2 separate regions of the Homo sapiens genome follow, and region 2 is linked to region 1. The links come from fine-mapping of genetic effects on gene expression. Tissue or cell type: whole blood. Region 1 holds a variant in brackets; the other region holds the start of a gene. All regions are shown on one strand. Distances are from middle to middle.

Evidence for each region. PIP is the estimated chance that this variant, and not a neighbour inherited with it, causes the effect.
Region 2: it holds the start of OCRL, and the variant in region 1 is the best candidate, but not a certain one, in a credible set for the expression of OCRL in whole blood (TOPMed, PIP 0.90).

The regions. Positions count from the first base shown.
Region 1 is chrX:129,571,006-129,581,829 of GRCh38, forward strand. OCRL (OCRL inositol polyphosphate-5-phosphatase) reads left to right here. Exons shown (of 24, transcript NM_000276.4): 16 at 4,135-4,245; 17 at 4,892-5,057; 18 at 5,312-5,547. Among named protein-coding and RNA genes, the nearest start is that of OCRL, 36 kb to the left of the region's middle. The variant C/T (reference allele first, on the strand shown) is at 5,231.
Region 2 is chrX:129,535,091-129,545,914 of GRCh38, forward strand. It overlaps OCRL (OCRL inositol polyphosphate-5-phosphatase), which reads left to right and starts at 5,169. Exons shown (of 24, transcript NM_000276.4): 1 at 5,169-5,388; 2 at 5,654-5,733; 3 at 9,868-9,947. The coding sequence starts at 5,350. RefSeq lists an enhancer at 5,002-5,296 and silencers at 5,013-5,072, 5,183-5,382.

The sequences.
Region 1 (10,824 bases):
CAGCAAGTTGAAATAACTTATTTAAGAGCATTCAACTAGGAGGAGAGCTGAGATTCCAATCTTAAGTTGGCTTAACTCCCAACTCTGTGCTCTTTCTACTACCCCACAATACCTCTATAATTCTATAGAACTTGATGAAATATACCTTTAGATAACTTCTTTTAGCCCATCTAATTTCTAGTTTGTACTTGCAGGCTGCCCCTTTTTCTTCATTTGAATTCTCTTAATCCATTTTGAGAGGGTATCTTTCCTCAAACACTAACCTCTTTGGTTAGATCAGGTATGCCTGGCTTTTTTGTTTACATTTCTTTTCAAAACCTTCAGATTTTTTTGTTTGTTTTTGTTTTTTGTTTTTTGGTTTTTTTTTTTTTTTTTTTGAGACAGAGTCTCGCTCTGTCACCCAGGTTGGAGTGCAGTGGCACGATCTTGGCTCACTGCAAGCTCCGCCTCCTGGGTTCACGCCATTCTCTTGCCTCAGCCTCCCGCCCAGCTAATTTTTTGTATTTTTAGTAGAGACGGGGTTTCACCATGTTAGCCAGGATGATCTCGATCTCCTGACCTTGTGGTCCACCCGCCTCAGCCTCCCAAAGTGCTGAGATTACAGGCATGAGCCACCGCTCGCAGCCAACCTTGGGATGTTTTTAATACTCCATACACATTAATGCAGAGCTTCTAGTGGGATATTTACATTTTTTTTCAGGCTTCCTGTGTATTTATGTATATCTTTAATAAAGATATGCCTTTTGAGTTTTTAATGATTTTTAAATTATACAGCAATGACAAGTGCTTTTAAAAAAATTAAAAGGAAATTTAAGCAGAATTGACAGATAAGGCAGAAGTTCTTCAATCCCTGTTCTGTCTCCTACTCCCAACTTTGCCTAAACCCCCATTCCCCAGCCAGGCCACTACCCTTAGGAGTTTATATCTTTCTAGACCAGTGCTGTCCAATAGAGCTTTCTGTGATGATGGAAATGTCCTGTATCTGTGCTGTCCAGTCCAGTGGCTTCTAGCAGCAGGGGGCTATTGAGTACTTGAAGTGTGGCTAGTGCAACTGAGAACTGAACTTCTAATTTAATTTAATTTAAAGTAATTTAAATTCAAATTCCCTATGTGGCTAGTCACTATTGTACTGGACAGTGCAGTTCTAGACCTTTGTATATGCTTTTTTGTTCACTCATAGACAAAATACTGATTTGTGTGTGTCTCTATATCATAAACGGTCTTATATGTATGTGTTGGTCTGCAACTTGATTTTTTTTTTTAACTCAGCAGTGTGTCTTGGAGAACCTCCCATCTTATTACATAAAGACCTAGCTCATTGTACTTTTTTTCAAATTCCTAATTTTGTCAGTAATTTCCTTTACTAAAATGGATGTGTCAGGTTGTGAAATTCTTTGGGGTTCCCCCCCTCCTCATTATCTTTGATTTGCCATTAAGTGCTGTGATCATGATAACCCGCTGAGAAAAAGTTTGATTTTATTGAGTAATCACCCCATGTTTTGGATTCTTGGGCATGCTATGATTAGAGGCTTTAAAAACCACACTATATTTTCACCACCATTGGCACCAATGACTGTTAACAAAGGAGCCAAGTGCACCGTGGCCAATTAATTTCAGAAGACTTTCTGTGGGCTGGCTGAGATAGAGCTAGGATAGGGTTCCAACCCTGCACTTGGTACTGTGATCTGTTGCATTGGTTCTCAGACTTCAGTGGATGTAAGAATTGCTTAGAGAGCTTTAAAAAAAGTGTGGATGCATGTGTCCTCACCCCTAGAGGCTGTGATTAGTAGACCCAGGCAGCTGTGCTTTTAAGACATACTCAAGTTGATTCTGTCACATATCTAGTATATTGGAAAGAGTCTTAAACTAGTCCAGATGTCACCTTTGGTATTCACTGTAGCAGTGAGCAAGTTTGTTGATTGTTTTGTATCTTAATGTTCTCAACTATCGGAACAAAAATATTCCTTGCTTTGGTAGCCTTCCAGGTTGTGAAAATAAAAAGACATGTGCAAAATACTTTTGGAAATTAAAAGTTGCAAAGTTTTGTAAAAGTATAAAATTCATCTTAAACTAATGCTATACTATGGACCCTGGTGATGGTAAAGTGATTGTTTGATCCTCGGTTCTCTAAGAGTTACAGTTCAAATATGTGAAAAACTTCCCCAGTCTGAGATACTTGACTCAGCTTTGATGTTCTTATTTTCAACATTTTAAAAAATTTTTATTTCACTTCAAGTTGTGGGATACAAGTGCAGAACGTATAGGCTTGTTACATAGGTATGTGTGCCATGTTGGTTTGCTGCACCTATCAACCCATCATCTAGGTTTTAAGCCCCACGTGCATTAGCTATTTAACCTTAATGCTCTCCTTCCCCTCGCCCCACTACCCCGAGTGGCCTGGTGTGTGTTGTTCCCCTCCCTGTGTCCATGTGTTCTCATTCTTCAACTCCCACCTATAAGTGAGAATATGCGGTGCTTGGTTTTCTGTTCCTGTGTTAGTTTGCTAAGGATGATGGCTTCCAGCTTCATCCATGTCCCTGCAAAGGACATGACTTTTTTTATTTTTTGAGGTGGAGTCTTGCTCTGTTGCCCAGGCTGGAGTGCAGTGGTGCAATCTTGGCTCACTTCAACCTCCGCCTCCCGGGCTCAAGGGATTCTCCTGCCTCAGCCTCCCAAGTGACTGGGATTACAGGCACCCACCACCATGCCTGGCTAATTTTTTTTTTGTACTTTTAGTAGAGACAGAGTTTCACCGTGTTGGCTGGGGTGGTTTCGAACTCCTGACCTCTAGTGATCCTCCTGCCTCGGCCTCCCGCAGTGCTAGGATTACAGGTGTGAGCCACTGTGCCCAGCCTGATCTCATTCCTTTTTATGGCTGTATAGTATTCCATGGTGTATATTTACCACATTTTCTTTATCAAGTCTTATTATTAATGGGCATTTGGGTTGGTTCCATGTCTTTGCTATTGTAAGTAGTGCTGCAGTAAACATATGTGTGCATGTGTCTTTATAGTAGAATGATTTATATTCTTTTGGGTATATACCCAGTAATGGGATTGCTGGGTCAAATGGTATTTCTGGTTCTAGATCCTTGAGGAATCGCCACACTGTCTTGCACAATGGTTGAACTAATTTACACTCCTACCAACAGTGTAAAAGCGTTCCTACTTCTCCACAGCCTCACCAGCATCTGTTTCCACATCTTTTTAGAACCTTTGCTGCATGTATCAATTTTTTTTGACATGAATTTTTGTGAAATTTCCTAGTCTAAAAAAGAAACCGATATCTCAAGTTAAAATCTGTTAGTTATGTTAATTTTGGCATTGGTTTGTATGAAGTTTTAATATTTAAAAAAACACAGCTATATCAGGAAGCTGAAAGTGCTGTGTCAGGTGGAAAATTTTTTTATCAGTGGAGATGTGTTTATACGTTGTCATGGTTTTACTCTAGTCTAGGACATTTTGTTTCAGCCATTTTCTAAAATGGCTGTAGGTTCCATTTATTAATATATCTCTGCTATTATGTAATCTGAGCAGTGATATTATACTTCTTGGTATTGTACATAGAATCTAATAGAGTTAAAAGCTTTTTAATAATATTTGCTGCCACCTCACCAAGTTATGATTGTTAGAAACAGTAATTGCTGTGTTTTGACACTGTCATTTTGTACAGTGCAAGCAATCATTTTTACCACAATTATCACATTTTTTCCACTACCAAATAACTTAACAATGAAGCAAGAAAATATTCTTCCCAAATATTTATTATTACCAAGCTTCTTAACGTAGGGGTTTAACTTTTACAGGACGTTAGCCAATTAATCTTACCTTTACCTTAAAGCGTGTGCTTCTATAATGCTTTGTTCAATTTATGTTTGCTTTAGTGACCTTAAAAATTGTTAGAGACTCTTGGAGGTATAAAAGTTGAGAACACATAAAACTAAAGCAAGGATCTGTTTTCTTTCAGGTGCAAGCTGTGGATGAAGCAAGATATAGAGAGTGTTTGAGGATGTTGTTTGCACCACAGTTTATTTTAAATAGTTACTGTAATGACCAGTTTTAAATTGTTAGATAATCTCCAAGGGAGATGAGCTAGAAGGATATAAGACTGAAAAGAGGATACATTTTCTTTCAGGTGAAGGTTGTGGATGAACGAAGGTACCGGAAAGTCTTTGAAGATAGTGTACGCATCATGGACAGAATGGAAAATGACTTCCTTCCTTCCTTAGAACTCAGCAGGAGGGAGGTGAGCAAAAATACATGATCTCCCTGTCTACTGCTCACTGTGGTTAGCACAGAAGAAACTGCTACTTAGAAAAGGCTACATAGCAACGTGGTTAAGCCCATGTCGCTGGAGTCAGACTGCCTCCATTCCAGTTGTAGCACGGCTGTTTAGTAGATGTATGACCTCAGGCAAGTATCTTACCCGCTCAGAGCCGCAGTTTCCTTTCCTGGATTAAGGGGTAGTTGTAAGGATTACATGAGTTAATACATGCAAAGCTCTCAGAACAGCACCCGGCACATAGTAAGCCCTCCGCTGTTAGATGCTCTTATTTAATATTTCAGAGTTGCTAGTTAATTTATATCTCAGAAACCAGGACTTGGTCACAGGATGAATACTCTGAACCAAGGTTGGGTTACCCTCTTAGGATCCTAGGAATGATCAGAGTAGCCTGGAGAAGTAGCAAGAGCCACCTAACTCCTTCTCTGCTGGTGTGAGTATAATAATACATGCAAGTGGATGTTGTGAAGTTGGTTCAGTTGGTGAATGTCTATGGCATTTGCACACCTGCTTAACAATTACCTTACTCCTCATATCCTCTATGGAATAATCCAACTGACTTACTTCCCCTACTAGTGATGCATGTTTGTGTCTGTCTGTTATTCCCCAGTTTGTGTTTGAAAATGTGAAGTTTCGGCAACTACAAAAGGAGAAGTTCCAGATCAGCAACAATGGACAGGTTCCCTGCCATTTTTCTTTCATCCCTAAACTTAATGACAGCCAGTACTGCAAGCCATGGCTTCGGGCTGAACCTTTTGAGGGCTACTTGGAGCCAAGTGAGTTTTCCCTTTACCATTGTCTCTGCTGGTGATGTCATGACTCCCATCCCCTTGGTTTAACTTTCTGTTTTCTAACCACATGTCTCTTACCTTTACTGTCATATTGGTGATACCTCTGGTGTGTGTCCTGTCTCTTCCCCCTCATTGCTTAATGATTTTTTTAGAGGACA[C/T]TTTTCTGTTGGTTCTTATACTCTTTTTTGCTTTCCCACTGGAGGTTTTCCTATTACCATGTATCATCTCTTACATTTCAGATGAGACAGTGGACATTTCTCTTGATGTGTATGTCAGCAAAGACTCTGTAACCATCCTGAACTCGGGAGAAGATAAGATTGAAGATATTCTCGTCCTTCACCTGGATCGAGGCAAAGATTACTTCTTGACTATCAGTGGAAATTACCTCCCAAGTTGTTTTGGCACATCCTTAGAGGCTCTGTGCCGTATGAAAAGACCAATCCGAGAAGTTCCTGTTACCAAACTCATAGACTTGGTAAGAACTGTCCCAAGACATAAACCTCTTTTACATTTAATTTTCACAATACTTAAGTGACGTCCTCATTATCTTTGTGCTTTCTGTCTTCTTTTGGCCACGGGGGATGTCAAATGATAAAGAAGAATGTTACTTTAGCACTGTTTTGATTAGATTAAGCCTAAGGGGAAAGAGGGGGGACTAATCTGCAGTTGGCTCTTGTTGTGAGTACAATACATAATACTAAGCTCACCAAATAAGATTAAAGACTCCCCTCTCAAAGATATAATGCTTGTTTGTTAAGCTCTTCATACTCTCAAGTCACTTTTGTATAAATTAGCATGTACGTGAGGTATGCTAAGTGGGGCAGGCAGAATTATCCTCATTTGAGCATATGAGAAAACTGAGGCACAGAGACATTGACGTGCCCAGAGTCAAATACCATCAGTTAGTAACAAATCTAGCACCCAGATTTCCTGGCTCCCAGTTTAGTATTCCTCACTAATACCACATTATATCTAATCAGAGTAAAACTTTGCTATTTATGGAAGCATAGAACTATCCTGGAACCCTGGAGTACCTGAATCAGAATCCCTGGGGGTGCTTATTACAGGTACCCTCACTTCTGGCAATGGAATCAGAATCTCAGGATATGGAGCCTACAGATCTGCATTTTATCCGCATTCCAGATGCTTATAATGTACATTGAAATTTGATACTTACTTAATGTGATGTGCTTAAGAAAGAAAAGGAGGTTGATTTTCCCACCTCTCCCTCAAGCCAAGCTATAATATTAATGTTTTTATGAAGGAAGTACTTACTATCTTCAGTAACATAAGTTGATTTAGTAATAAAGTTCATTGTATTAAGAAATTTCCTTCTAAATGAAAATATTGTTGGATTGTATGCAGAATCTCTTTGGGCTACAAAAGTATATTCTTGGTTTTTTTACCAAAGAAAATTAGGTGAGGTGACAGCATACGTTATCCTTACCATTAGTATTCACATGGATCCTTTAGGCCTAGCCAGAGCGAGTGATTGTATCTAGCAGGGAGGTCTAGACCAGCAGGCAGGCTGCTGGCTTGTCTGAGTCCGATCTGTTCTGTTGCCATGGAATTGTTTTAGCTGTGACTCAGATAGCAGATTAAAACACTGAGTCCAGCCCCGGCATTCTTTCTTGGAATTATACTTATTTCCCCAGAGCCCTCATGACTGAGTATATTACCTCTGTTTGAGAGAGAACCATTTTCTTCAGAAATTCATATCCTACCGTTCTGCTGTTTTTCATGATAATTGTTTTTCTCCTAACATTATATTTCTGTCTTTTAGATTTTAGTATTTCACCTTTTAGAATACATTTTGGATGATGAAGTTGTTTTTCTTATTTCTCCTACCCCCTTTCCTTCATCTCAGACATTATTTCCCAGCTTTCTTTGTTTCAGCTTTTTATTATGAAAAATGTCAAATGTGCAGAAAAATGGAAAGAACAGTACAACACACCCCCACATGCCTTCTGTACATATATACACACAGATGTTTTTTGCTGTGTCATGTAAAATTTAGTGGTAATATGTCACTTCACCACTGAACACTTCAGCCTGCATCTCTTAACAAAAAGGGCACACTTAAGCACAATACCATTATTATGTATAAGAAAACTAACAGTAATCCATAGTATCATTTAACATTCGGTCCATATTCAGATTTCTTCAGTTGTCCCAAGAATTTCTGTTATACCTTTTTTTAAACCAAAATCCAATCTGGGTTCATATAGTATTTGGTGAGGTCTCTGAAGTCTCTATTGGAGTAGTACAGTTCCTACTTTCTTTAGTGACATTGACTTTTTTAAGAGTCCAGTACAAATGTCCAGTCAAGGGTCAACCATTTCCTAAATTTTTCTGGTTGTTTCCTTCTTGTTTTTTTTTTTTTTAAACTTATCCCATTTATACTCTCTCCTTCCACCTTCATGTAAACAGGAACCTACCCTTATTTTTAGTCAGAGTCAGTGAAGATATTAGAATATCTTTGCCATTAATATGAAAAACTGCAAAGCCATTAATATGAAAAACTTTGCAGTTTTTCATATTCTGGGATTGGCCAGAAGAGGCTCAACCCTCATAAAGTTTTTATTTTATGTAAAGTATACTATCAGGTAATTTTACCATGTTTGCCCATGAACAGAAAGGAACCAAAATCATTAGAGGAATGAATGGCTCTTTGGGAAGCCTTTTTCCTTCTTTTTGTGCACAAGTGATTGAGGGTTAAAATAATAGAACCCTGATCATTTTTAATTACAGAATTTCTGAGTTTTTATTAAATTGTATGTGTGTGGACATCATTTTTCTTTTAAAGCTTTTATTTTGTAGGATTTAGGGTTCTTTTCACAGTCTGTTGCATTTCAGTGTTATTAAATTCCTGTATCTCATTGATGAGGAAATTATCTATACAGGTTGATTATCCATTATCCAAAATGCTTGGGACCAAAAGTGTTTCAGATTTCAATCTTTTTCAGATTTTCAAATATATGCATTATATACTTACCAGTTCAGCTTCCCTAATCTGGAAATCGGAAATCTGAAATGCTTCAATGAGCATTTCCTTTGATCATCATGACAGTACTCAAAAAGTTTCGAGTTTTGGAGCATTTTGGATTTCTGGATTGGGAATACTCAACCTGCATTACTGTGGAGCAGTAAACAAGAAATCTAAAAACAATTAGTATCCCATCTTTAATACCTTCTCACTCTGTTGTGACTTGATTTTGACCTTCTGAAATGATTCCTCAGGTATAGTATTCATGTTTTTTTTCCCCAAGACCCAATATCGTATTTCAAATCTCATGAGATGATGCTGTTAATAATGGTACCTGCCCTCTGTTGTATTATTTGCTCTAAAATTTTGGTAAAGCCAGAAACGAGTTCAATGTATGTGTTGTCTCTCTATGTACTGTTTTAGAAAGATCCTTATGCACTGTTTTAGAAAGATCCTTATGCCACACCATCTTCCCACCAAATGCAGAATGAAATAACTGACATAATTATTTTTCATCCTTCCAGCCCTTTTCATAATAGTGACTTTGCCACTCCTAGAATAGTTGAGATTAGCACAAGTGGGAAACGGATGAAAATCTACCATTTGTAATCATCTTTATTGTTTTTCAGAATTAAGATAGATTTTTCTGTTATATTAACTAGAATATTAAGTAGCAAATAATCCTCAATATTGATTCATTACACACTGGATACAAAGTATTATGGAGTTTATGTGAGTTCCCATAATTTAGTGGTGATGAAAGTATATTTGCACATAAAATATGGCTAAACTTTAAGTCATGGTTAATAGGGAGTTTGGTTAAAGATAATCTGAACATTAACCACCTTTACTGGCTAATGTCTGGTGTGCTTGGTAAGTCAGTATTTTGGAAAGTCGTTTAAAGTGACTGCTATGAAGGTTGTAGTTTGTATTAACAATAGGTTCCTTTCCTATGTTGTTTATTCAAGCCCTTATATGCTATAAAAGCTTATTGACTGACCAGCTAATCCCTATAGAAATCAGAATCAGCCTGTTTTCATTTTAATGAATATTTGATACATGTAACATTAACATGACTGAGAAATAAGTTTAGCACATAAGAATAAAGTGAACTAGGAAGGTGATTTGGAGTTAGTTATAGAAGTATTTTCAGTCAAGTCCAAGTACTTAAGAAACACTTATTAATATAGTGGGTGAGCAGGCTCTTCCAGGCTTAGAGGACATCTTGAATAAAGGGTAGAAGGTGAAAGTGAAAAGACCATGTATGAAAAACTGTAAGATTTCCCTGGGACAAGTGAAGATCAAGGATAAGAATGTATGAAGCTGGTTAGGGAGAATGGGGCAGGTGGTAGAGAGTCTTGAAGTCAATAGATAAGTTTATGCATGAGCCAGAGGGTATCTAGAACCATCAGAAGGGTTTGCTGATTAGTATGAGGTTGCAAATTGATATAGTTGGAAGAACATTCTGGTGTTACTTGTAGAATGGACTAATTGAAAGGAGACAAGACTTGAACTTGCCAGATGTGGCTAAGTTGTAAATACGGAGATGAAAAAAGTTGAGGGATGGGTAGAGAAACTATATTTGCTTGGGGACATATCTGTTGGGAGAACAATATCAAAAGTTTGAAATAACAGGAATAACTTGTTAATTTGTCCGTAGTGTTTTTTTCACTATGTTTTTACTTTGTCTTACTAATCTAACCATCCATTTCTTACTCTGTTAAGTATATGGCTTGTATTTCTTCTCTATTTCATATGAACTAATCCTTTTTAGAACTTCATTTTCCATTCAGTTTTCGGCTATTTATTTATTTATTTTTGAGATGGAGTCTTACCCTGTCGGCCAGGCTGTAGTGCAGTGGCACAATCTTGGCTCACTGCAACCTCCATCTCCCAGTTCAAGTGACTCTCCTGCCTCAGCCTCCCGAGTAACTGGGACTACAGGCGCGCGCCACCACGCCTGGCTAATTTTTGCCTTTTTAGTAGAGATGGGGTTTTACTGTGTTGGCCAGGCTGGTCTTGAACACCTGACCTCAGGTGATCCACCCGCCTCAGCTTCCCAAGGTGCTGGGATTACAGGCGTGAGCCACCGTGCCCGGCTATGCTTTTTATTTTTAAATTTGCATCTTCCACCTCTAATTGACTCTTTTATTTTAGCTGCATTTACCACGGGGAACAGTCTTCTGAGGGTGAATGTTGGGGTAAAGAATGATTTGCATTGCATTTGCTATGTGCCAGTGTTGTCCCACTGGGGAAATCCTGAACTAAGTTCTCTTTTTAAATGTAATCCATATATAGCCTTTTGCAGAGAATGGGCATCTCTGCTCTTTAAAATTGGTTGAACTAAGTGATTCATAGTAGAAACCTTAGGATTATTATAGGAGTAAGCTGTTTACTAATAAAGGTTAAGTGATGCTTCTGTTTTCAAAATTGAGACCAAGGTTGAATTCAATGTAATTTCTATGTTGTTTCTTTGTGCCTGTACCTAGAGAAGTAAATCTCTTGTCCCTCCATCAGTATTTAATCAAAGTCCTTTTGATTCTTCTTTCAGAATTTTCTCTTGTATTCATTCATTTGTAAGTGTATGTATATACCTTTTATTATATATATATATCCTTTAATATATATACTTAGAAATTATATATATATATATACACACACCTGTGTGTGTGTGTGTGTGTGTGTGTGTATAAAATTTTCCATTATTAAGATGTTTACCTTCTTCTGCTTGACCTACCTCGGTAGCCTTTGAATGATCCCTTTGTC
Region 2 (10,824 bases), 36 kb before region 1:
CACCAAGAGTATAGGTGATAGGCTGTGGCCCCAAGTAATGAGCTTTTCTCACCCCAAACTCTATAAGGAATGAAAATAGACATAAATAACATAGAAATGTGTAAGTGGAAATATAGAAATGCAAAACAGAAATATGTAAATAAAAATGAACTCTTTATGTTGCTCTGTATGGAAAGCCATACCCATGCTGGATTTGTGTATATGAAAAGGGAGGCTTTTCAACTAGTGGGGATTTAAAAATAAATGAATCATTTATGCCTCCACTTGGCCTGCCTTCCAGCCTCTGGCTGCTGACTCACCTATACAAAATCTTCCTTCCCAGCCTCATCTATGTTAGGCAGGCCTGTTTTTGCCTTCGCAGGCCCTAAACACTGTCACTTGTGGAGACTTCAGCCAACATCATAATAAACATATTAAAATGCATCCACATCCTGCATTAAACATTTATATTTTTGCTATAAATTTTTGAAAATGCTTTGGTAATTTTGCTTTTGAAATTATTTGTCTGTGCATAACTAATTTAATTTACATGGCTGTGATTTCTCCATAAGAATTACATGTACGTGGGAATTCTTGGGAAGTGAGAAGATCCAACCTAAAAATCGTCTTCAAATATAATGGGTTTTTAAATGCATAATAAATTTAACTGTTAATGAACTTGATATACTGTTCTATTTTGTATGCCATTTAATTATTATTTTTGAATTTGTCATTTTAGTATTTTGTAGCCTTTACTTAAAAACAAATTTTTTTAGAGACAGAGTCTCCTTCTGTCGCCCAGGCTGGAGTGCTGTGGCACAATCATAGCTCACTGCAGCCTTGAACTCCTGGGCTCAAGTGATCCTCCTGCCTCAGCCTCCCGAGTAACTGGGACTGTAGGCACATACCACCATGCCCAGCTAATTTTATTTTATTTTATTTTTGTAGAGATGGGGGTCTCGTTAGATTGCCCAGGCTGATCTCAAACTTCAAATGGTCCTTCTGCTTTGGCCTCCCAAAGTGCTGGGATTGTAGTTGTGAACCACTGTGCTCGGCTCTAGTCTTTTTTAAAGATCCTGTTTTTTTTAATTTTGTTTCTGAAAAGCCTGTAAGTTCTAGACACTTAGTGATAGTTGCCTAATAGATAAAAGACAGGCACTGAGCACCCACTGAATTTGTGTGTGTTTGTGTATGTGTGTACACGCACGCATGTGCAGATGGTGGTGGTAAAGGTGGTGAGATTCATGTTTTCTTGAAGCCAGAGTTTCATTTATTTGAATTTTATTCAATTGTCTTTTAACTCTTTGCATTGGAAGCCACTTATATGCAACCATCATTTCCCCTGTGAGAGACCTCAGTTTTTAGTGTCCTTACCTCAATATATTTTAATTTCCACACAACCTCTTATTCTTCACTTAACAAATATTTATTGAGTGCCCACTATGTGCAATGCACTGTTTAGGTGCTGAGGATACTGTAAAGTTGGAGGAAGAAGTATCTCGCCTTTTCCCTAAGGCCGATTCCGCCATCTACATCTTGGATCTTTGTCCCTCTCAATTACTGAGGGATTTTGCTTGCAACCTTACTGCCTCTCTCTTCTAGCATCTTAAAAGGCCCCCTCTGGCCGGGCGCGGTGGCTCACGCCTGTAATCCCAGCACTTTGGGAGGCCGAGGCGGGTGGATCATGAGGTCAGGAGATCGAGACCATCCTGGCTAACAAGGTGAAACCCCGTCTCTACTAAAAATACAAAAAATTAGCCGGGCGCGGTGGCGGGCGCCTGTAGTCCCAGCTACTCGGGAGGCTGAGGCAGGAGAATGGCGTGAACCCAGGAAGTGGAGCTTGCAGTGAGCCGAGATTGCGCTACTGCAGTCCGCAGTCCGACCTGGGCGACAGAGCGAGACTCCGTCTCAAAAAAAAAAAAAAAAAAAAGGCCCCCTCTTTGTTGGTTCCTTCCTCTTTGCTTTAAAGTGGCTTCAGGCTTTGTCAACAACCTCTGTTTGACCCTTCTAACTAATTTAATTAAAATTGTACTTCGTTCCTTTTTATTTCCAAACCTCTTCAATCTGTGGTCTCTTGTCTCCGTTTTCTCACAATACAGTTCCTCCTCAATTCCCCATAATCTTGTTTCTATCCTCACCACTTATTGAAACCAAACAATTATTGGTCTCCAGTGAACTCCTTGACACGTCCAAAGAAAGTCTCTTTGGCCCTCATTTTCTTGTCCTATTTTCAGCATTTGATACTGCTAACCTCCCCTGCATATTCCTTCTTTATCTTTCGTTTTCATTGACTGCAAATGATTTTCAGTGCAGGAAAGTACATGGAATAACAGAACCAATATATGTACCCACCACCCAGTTCTATCAAATCTTGCAACATCACTTTTCAGATTCTGTTTTGAGAAATAAATATTAGATATATTTGATATTCTCTGTATGCCTCCCCCGAGTGTCAATCCTCTCCCTCTCTTAAATTTGGTGATCATGCCCTTTCATGTTTTATATACTATTACAGTACTACTCATCTATGTAGCCATAAGCAATAGATGATATTTTCAGACTTTATATACACAGTATACTGTACATGTTTTGCAATTTGCTTTTCACTCAACATTATATTTTTGAAATTTAGCTGTTACTACCCATAGCTCAAATTCATTCATCGAGAACACCATTATTTATTCATTCACCTGCTGACATTTACTTGGCTTCCATTTTTGAGATTACAAATAATACTGCAATGAACATTCTTTTATATGTCTCTTTGTGCATATAAAAGGTAGAGTTTTGCCAGTGTCTATATCTAGAAATAGAATTTCTAGATTGAGGGGTATTGCCTTTATTAGACATCGTCAAATTGTTCTTCATAGCAGTTCTACCAACTTAAACTCCTTCTAGCCGTAAATCAGAGTTCCACTGCTAGAACTTCAACAACACTTGGGGTTGTCTGACTTTTTAAATTTTCACAAAACCGATGGTTGTGAAATGGTATCTCGTGGTTTTACTTTTCAATTTCCCTGAATAGTAATAAAGTTAGGCATCTTTTCATGTCTTTATTGGCCATCTGGGTTTCCTTGACTATGAATTACTTACTCAGATATTTTGTCAATTTTTCTATTAGGTTTCTTTCTTATTTATAGGAGTTCTTATATATCCTGGATACCAAGTCATTCATTCATTTAATCAATATTTTTCTAGCACCTACTTGGCTCCAAGAATGGTTCTAGGCACTGAGAATGCAGCTATGATCAAAACAGACAAAATCCTTGCACTCATGGAACTCAACATTCTAGCGGGTGAAGGTAAATGACCAATAATATTGATAAATAAAACAGAAGTGGTAGATAGTGATACATAAGCAGGGAAGAGGGATAGGGAACATGTATGTGTGGTGATGGAGAAGGGGATTGTTGAATTACAATTTTCAATAAAGTGGTCTAGGAAGGCTTCAGTGAGAAAGTGACATTTGAGCAAAGACCTGAAGGAGGTGAGAGTGCATGCAGAGTGAACAGCAAGTGTAAAGGCCCTGAGGTAAGAGTGTGCCTGGCAAGTCCTAGCAACAACAAGGAGTCAGTGTGACTAAGCAAAGCTAGTTAGGGAGAGTGGTGGGAAATGGTGGGAGATGTCCGAAAGGTGATGACAGCTTGTCTTTTTTTTTTTTTTTTTTTTTTGAGACAAGGTCTTGCTCTGTCACCCAGGCTGGAGTGCAGTGGCGCCATCACAGCTCACTGTAGATGTGACCTCGCTGGCTCAAGGGGATGCTCCCACCTCAGCCTCCTGAGTAGCTGGGACTGCAAGCACTTGCCACCACATCCAGCTAATTTTTATAGTTTTTGTAGAGACAGGGTTTTGCCACGTTTCCCAGGCTGGTCTTGAACTCCTGGGCTCAAGTGATCCTACCACCTCGGCCTCCCAAAGTGCTGGGATTACAGGCATGAGCCACTGTGCAGGCCAGTTTGTCTTTTAACTTGTTTATATTGTCTTAAAGTACATACATTTTGAAATTTCATGTAGCTAAATGTCTTATTCTCATTCCATATTCCAAGCTCATACTCAATTTTTTTTTCTGAAAGTTATAAAGTTTTGCTTTTCACATTTAGATCTTTAATCCACCTGGAACTGATTTTTCTTCCATGGTTTGAGGTAGGGGTCTAATTTTTATAATTTTCCATATGGATAAGCAGTAGTCCTAGTACCACTTAGTGGATAATCCATTCTTTCCCCACTGATTTGAAATGTCCCACACGCTGCATATCAACCTTCCGTATATGTGTGGTCTGTTTGAGGGGTTTATATTGTGTTTCATTGATTGTCTATCTCCACAGCATACTTTTAATTACTACAGATTTACAGTCACTCTTGATATCTAGTGTATTATAGATTCTGGAGCAAATGAATAACACGATCGAAAAATTACTTTGGGAAAAATATTTTTATGGCTGTCAACAGAGTAAACATGTCAAAGGAAAGAGTAAACCCAACAGGATTTATTTAAAGAAAAGTGCAATAACCCAGATAGGCTATCACAAGGGCTTACAATAAAGTTATGGCAGTGTGAATGGAGAGAAAATAAGGAATCTAAAAGTAATTCCACGTAAAATATTAACAGGGTGTGTTGACTGATTGGATATAGAGATGAGGAGGGGGAAGACGATATATGGCTTTCCAGTGAAATGATAATGAGTTAGTTTTGTGACGCAGTGATGTGTTAACAATGGACTCTATTAGGTAAGAGGTCTGGGCCAGGGATATATATTTGGACATTGTCTAGTTAGAGGTGAACTGGAGGGGACGCAGAGGAGGAGCAAAGGTCTGGGCTTTGGGGAATTCTCCGATTTAGGGCGTGGAAGAAAGAAGAGGAAAGGAAATGGTAGGATAACCAACACGGGACATTATAACCTTAAGAAATATATATATATATATATATGTATTTTTTTACTGAATGATGTGGGTCGTATTGACACAACAGGTTTGAGATCTCCCATAGGTATGACTGTGTTTTGTTTCTGTGGCCTTCAAAGTCCTCAGAACAATTTTGATGTCACAGGTGGCATTTAAAACCCATTCCTTGCTGGACCTGGTAGAGACGCCCCCAGTCCGTCAGGTCTCTCGCTGCAGTTCCGCAGTTTGACCGCAGGGGACGGAATCTGCGGCGGCCTGGAAAACTGGCGGGGGCGCGAGGCGCCGCTCTCTCTTGGGTCAGATTCTCAGCTCCCAGCTCCCCGCTCCCGGCTCCCGGCGCCCGGCGCCCGGCGCGGAGCTGTTCCTCAAACGACACGCAGCCGAGGTGGGTGGGTGTGGGGACGCGGGAGCCAGTGTCGTCGGATCGGCCCGCAGTCCGCTGTCCTGCTGAGCCCGGAGGCCGCCTGGATGGAGCCGCCGCTCCCGGTCGGAGCCCAGCCGCTTGCCGTATCCGCCGGAGAGAAGGGAGAGGGGAGGCCGCGCAGGGCCGGGGGTGGGGGTCGGGGGCCCTGCGGAACACGGTGGGGCGGGGCAACCGGGTGGCCCAGAGGCCGAGCAGAGAGGGGGAGGGGGCCGGCGCGGGAGACGAAGCAGGGCGGGGCGGGGCGGGGGAGGGCGGCGGTGGGGGGGGGGTGGAAGACCCCCTTCGCCCCGCAGTGCACCACTCCTCCCCACCGCGCTTCCGAAGGAGACCCTTGACTAGCGCCCGCATACTGTCGAGGGTATGGAGATGAAGGGTCCTCTCCGGGAGCCCTGCGCCCTGACCCTAGCCCAGAGGAACGGGCAATATGAGTAAGTAACCACCTGATTCCCACAGAGGAGGGGAGCCTGCCATTACCTCCCAACCCCAAACCGCGACGGGTCACCCACTGTCCTCCTACTGAAGCCACGCGGGCAACAGGTTCAGGTCCAGGTGTGAAGTGCCAGTGCTCTCTAACCTCGGGGCTTTGTCCCCAACTTCCAAGCCTCTGGATTGTGCTTGGCAGTGTGGCTCAGTGGAAGGACTGAATGGGCGGGGAAGCAGGAAGCCTGGGTTCTTAGTTCCTGCCCCTGCAACTGACATGTGTTGTGTAACGTTGGGCAAGTCAATAAAGCTTTCTGGGCCAAAGTTAACTCTTCAGTTTAATAAAACCATTAACTGCCTTACCTTACAGCCTTTGGAATTATAACTGGGGGAAAAATAAATGCGAGAGTGGCTTCCAAAAAGTAAAAGTGCTATGGAAATGCTTCATTGTTAACGTTACAGACTTGTCTTAACCCTATTCAGCTGGTTTCTCCAGTCTCCCCGTCCCCTTATCCCACTGGGTTGAAGGCATATTCATTAATTCAGTAATGGTTTAGTGTAGGCCAGAAACTGCCTCACTTACTGACTTTACTGTTAGAAAGAAAAGGTAATGAAATGTGTAGAGATAGAAATGACAGTATTTTATCAGTGTGTCACCTTCCTCTCTGCCATAGGAGCTCCGTAAATACTGTTGACTGATTGATCAAAAGATTATTTTGATAAGCTATCACCATAGCTGCTAACCTCACTCTATTGTCACTAATATCTTATCTCAAAAATATCCATGGTGACCATTACGTATCATAGGCCCCTATCCCTGTGTGCCCAAGACACCTCACTTGGATATTCATTGGCTTCTTGACATCATATTCCTTCCCAGTTTAAAAATTGTTCACTTAAATCTTGCCATCTCCCAACATTGGCTTCTGCCTAAAACCAATTTTCTCAGTCCCCACTTTTAGATCCTCTGTATCTATGCTGTCAGATTTACACGGAAGAAATTCCCACTGGCCCAACCTGCTCTTCTCTGAGACTATTGGTGCCACTCTAACTGGATGTCAGCTAATTCTGTGAAGTAGCTCTTTCATAGGTCCTGCTTAGTCAGCTCTACTGGGAAGTTCATCAAACCCGGATTTCATCAAACCCTGGAAGACTAGTTTAATGAAACTAAACTAAATTCAGAATTTAATAAAACAAAATTCAGCAGAAAAGTGGAACACCACTAACATTTCCAAAGGCTAGAGTGGGTTACAGAGAGGTGACCCTTGGGCAAACCAGTAAAACTTGTGTGCCTTGGTTTCCTCTAATGTAAAAACAAAATCATGAAGATTGAATAGAGTAGCTACATTGTTGAGATGACCACAGCCCAGAATCTAGTCCCTCGGATTAGTAGATTTGGAACTCTGTTGAGCTAATAAGGAAGTCGTGTGTTCCAATTCTGTGTAAGTTATGGGGGTATAGTTGGGGGTATATGTGGGGGTATGGGGCTGCTATATAACTAACATTAATATATAGGTAACACTATATAACAACTATATAACTAACAACTAATATAGTTGTTGCTATATTAGCAGTTTATATATAAACTATGTAAATAGTTTTAAATATATATAAACTATAGTTTTAAATACATATAAACTATAGTTTATATATAAACTAACATATAACTAACAACTAATATAGTTGTTGCTATATAACTAACATTCAATGGCTGCTTATGTGCCAGGTACTGTTCTAAGCCCTTTTCATTAGTTAGTTCATTTAATCCACATGTGAGGGTTACTATAAGATAGTAATATCATCATCCCCCTTTTATAGATACAGAAATTGAAGCACAGACAGGTTAAGTCACTTGTTTGCAATTAGGGAGTAGAATACCTGAGATCTGATCCTATGTAACATGTCTCAGAATTACACTGAGAAGTTTCTCTTGAAAGCATTTGCTGGAGACACCTAATACCATAATACCATCTGTAATCCTCATATTCTTGTCTCTCTGGTGTCTTTTCTGACTCGAGTGTCCAGAACTTTTTACTTTTGGCTTTTTTATCCTAGAACTTGAAGCCTGACTTAAATCTTTAGGTCTGTGGTTCCTACTGTCAACCATAGGAAATTTGCTTGACCAAAATTACAATTAAAAATCAGGGTTTTTTTGGAAACAGGGAATCAAACACTTAAGATTCATATTTTTCAAGGATAATAGATTATGACAAAACCTGTTTGACCTTTAACCTTCCTTGAACAAATCAAAGTGTTTCCTAGGGATAAGGCAGAGTTGGCATTCAGGATTTGTCACTCTTTTCTGTTTGACAACTACCAAATTCTGAATTCCATTGTTTTGCTGTATACCAATTATTTCTAATCTTTATATTCTGAAATGAATAATTACACTCAGAATTTTTATGCTTATTCTTAGCCCTACTCTTTTATTGTAATTTAGTGGGTAACACGTAGTAAATACTCAATAAATGTTGGTGAAATTCACTTAAATTCTCAGTTTATTTGTTTTGTAATAGTTTTTAACAGTACTGTCCAGATGAAGCTTTAATGCTAATGTTCAACACCATTTCTTGTTTATGTATTTTGAGATTTTAGTGGTTTGTGTTTATCTTCCTCAAAGTAAGCTCTTCCTCCTTAACCCTTGATTTCTCAGCCTTTTATCTGGTTTCTGGTTTCCATCTGGGTTTATAGGACTCTCCACTCAACTCATGAACTTTCCAGATGGAAAGGGGCCTGCCCCATATTCCTGTAATCACCTTAGAGTACAAACCCCTGCAAATTAGGCAAGAAGGATCACAGCAGAAAAACAGCATTAATACTTTTATTTCCCTTAGTTCTATCTAAGTAATTACTTATCCTATCCCAGGTTATCCTCTTCAAAGTTAACACATTTGAAAATGCAAAAAGCAAAAGCAACAAGCACCCCCAAAAGACAACAAAATAGAAATCAAACCCTTCAAAACAATGACATTTTAATGTCAGAAGTTGGACAGTTTCATTGAAAAATTCACCGCTGCTTATAGCTTAATTAAGCTAGTTAATTTATTCAGCCAGTATTTGTTGAGCATCTATTAGGCTGCAGACAAAACTGAATATGATCTGGTCTTTGCTTTCAAGGAGCTGAAATCAGTGAGGGGAAATAAATATAACCATAATGGAGTGTGTAAGTGTTCTATTAGAGGGGCAAACAAAGGCGATAAGGCTGCTGGTTCTGCTTGGGGGTACTGAGGACAGTTTCATGGAGGAGGTGATATTTGAGATGAAACTCGGAAAGAAACAGAGTGTTCCTGACAAAAAACTAAAAACAATACTTGAAGAGTGCTTGACTTTGAGAATGCTAGTTGACGTTCAGAATGGCTGTTTACCAGTAGGTCGTACCTTGATTCTGGACCACTAAGGATAAATAATAAATGAAAAATTAATATTTCAGGAGTACGTATGGATTTAGAAGTATGGATTTCATCTGGGGAGTCAGGTTTACTCATGTTTATGTAGAAATACCAGCGTAAACTTGGAAACCAGAGAAGAAACAAGGGATTTGAAGGCAATCCAGTTGTGATATCTGCCACCTTGTTGGTCACTGATATTTTGACCAATCCAGCTGGCTGAGCACCCCCTCTTACTCCTCCATGAACCTGAATGCTTGTTTGAAGAGACAGATCCATTCTTTGGTAAAAAGCCATGGGAATATAATTGGAAGGTTAATTTATGAATTTTCTAATTCATTGATTCCACACACACGAGCAACTCCTGTGTGCCAGGCTTTGTGCTAGGTACTAGAAATTCCGTGGTGTAAAGATAGCTGTGGTCCCTGCACTCATGGACTTCACATCTAGCTGTCAGTTCTTCACTCTGGTATGCATACTCTGAAGCTATATACTCTGTAATTCATGCTCTTAAGCTTGTACACTGTTTTTAGGATATATGGCCTAGAGAACAGTGTGGGTAATCAGATGTTCATCACCACTAGCATCCTTTTAGGCCTAGAGCAATATCTAGCTGTCATGATGCTCAGATCCAGGGAACTAGATGCAGCAAGTCTAGTAAATACAGACTAGATTTGTATAACAGGACAGTGAAGTATTTTTTTGCTAAATGAGTTTTTCAGTGGCTGTTCTTTGATGCGTTCTTCTGTTTCCTAGGTTAATAATCCAGTTGCATGAGAAGGAACAGCATGTTCAAGATATCATTCCTATAAATAGCCACTTCAGATGTGTTCAAGGTACTAGCTTTAATTCCTTAGCTAGTTTTATAATGTTTTTTCTCGGTCATTACTGCATTATGTAATACCATACATATTTAAATTTGTCAGTGCATGTAAAATGAAATGTATTACTCTTTGCATAAAAAGATAACATTGAGGAGATGATACTTTCTCTAAGAATGCTGAAGGGTTATATCGAAATATATTTGTATATGTGTGTCTATAGTCTCACCTGTTTCCTTGGCTTGGGTTAGAGATGTATGTAGATTGTTACCTGTGTAGGTAGTTTTTTATGCTGACTGACCTATATGTGGATTTAAATAACATTCTTGGGCTTAACGGACACAGTGCTCATAAGGTACCAAGGTCACTTGGATTCACACACATTCAGCACTTTCTCCACATGCTATTTGAAATTAAGACATTTGGCAACATGCCTTGCCAGACTGTAATATCTTACACTCAATTGTGCTGATTCTCAAACCTTGACATTGGTGAATCATAAGAAAATTGACTCTGGGGAGGAAATATTTGGCCTCCTGCCCTCAAATTTGGGGACGGAGCATAGAAAATCTGTTGTTTCATCTGCTACAATGAAACTTAAAAATTGGGAGGTTTGTGTAGGAGGTGTTGCTTCTGTCATCTCACATTGCTCTAGAAAGGAAATTGATACTAGAGAACAAATGCATTCTGTTTTCACTAGGACCAGTGGCTTTATCTAGCAGAAGCATTCTGTATCAATTGTAGCTTCTTGGAAAACTTGTTTTTTCAAGACAAGGTCATTTCCCAGGCTCAAGTGATCCTCCCACTTCAGCCTCCCAAGTAGCTGGGACTGCAGGTGCACCACCCCCCAGCTAATTTTTTTTGTAATTTTTGTAGTGACGGGGTTTCGCCA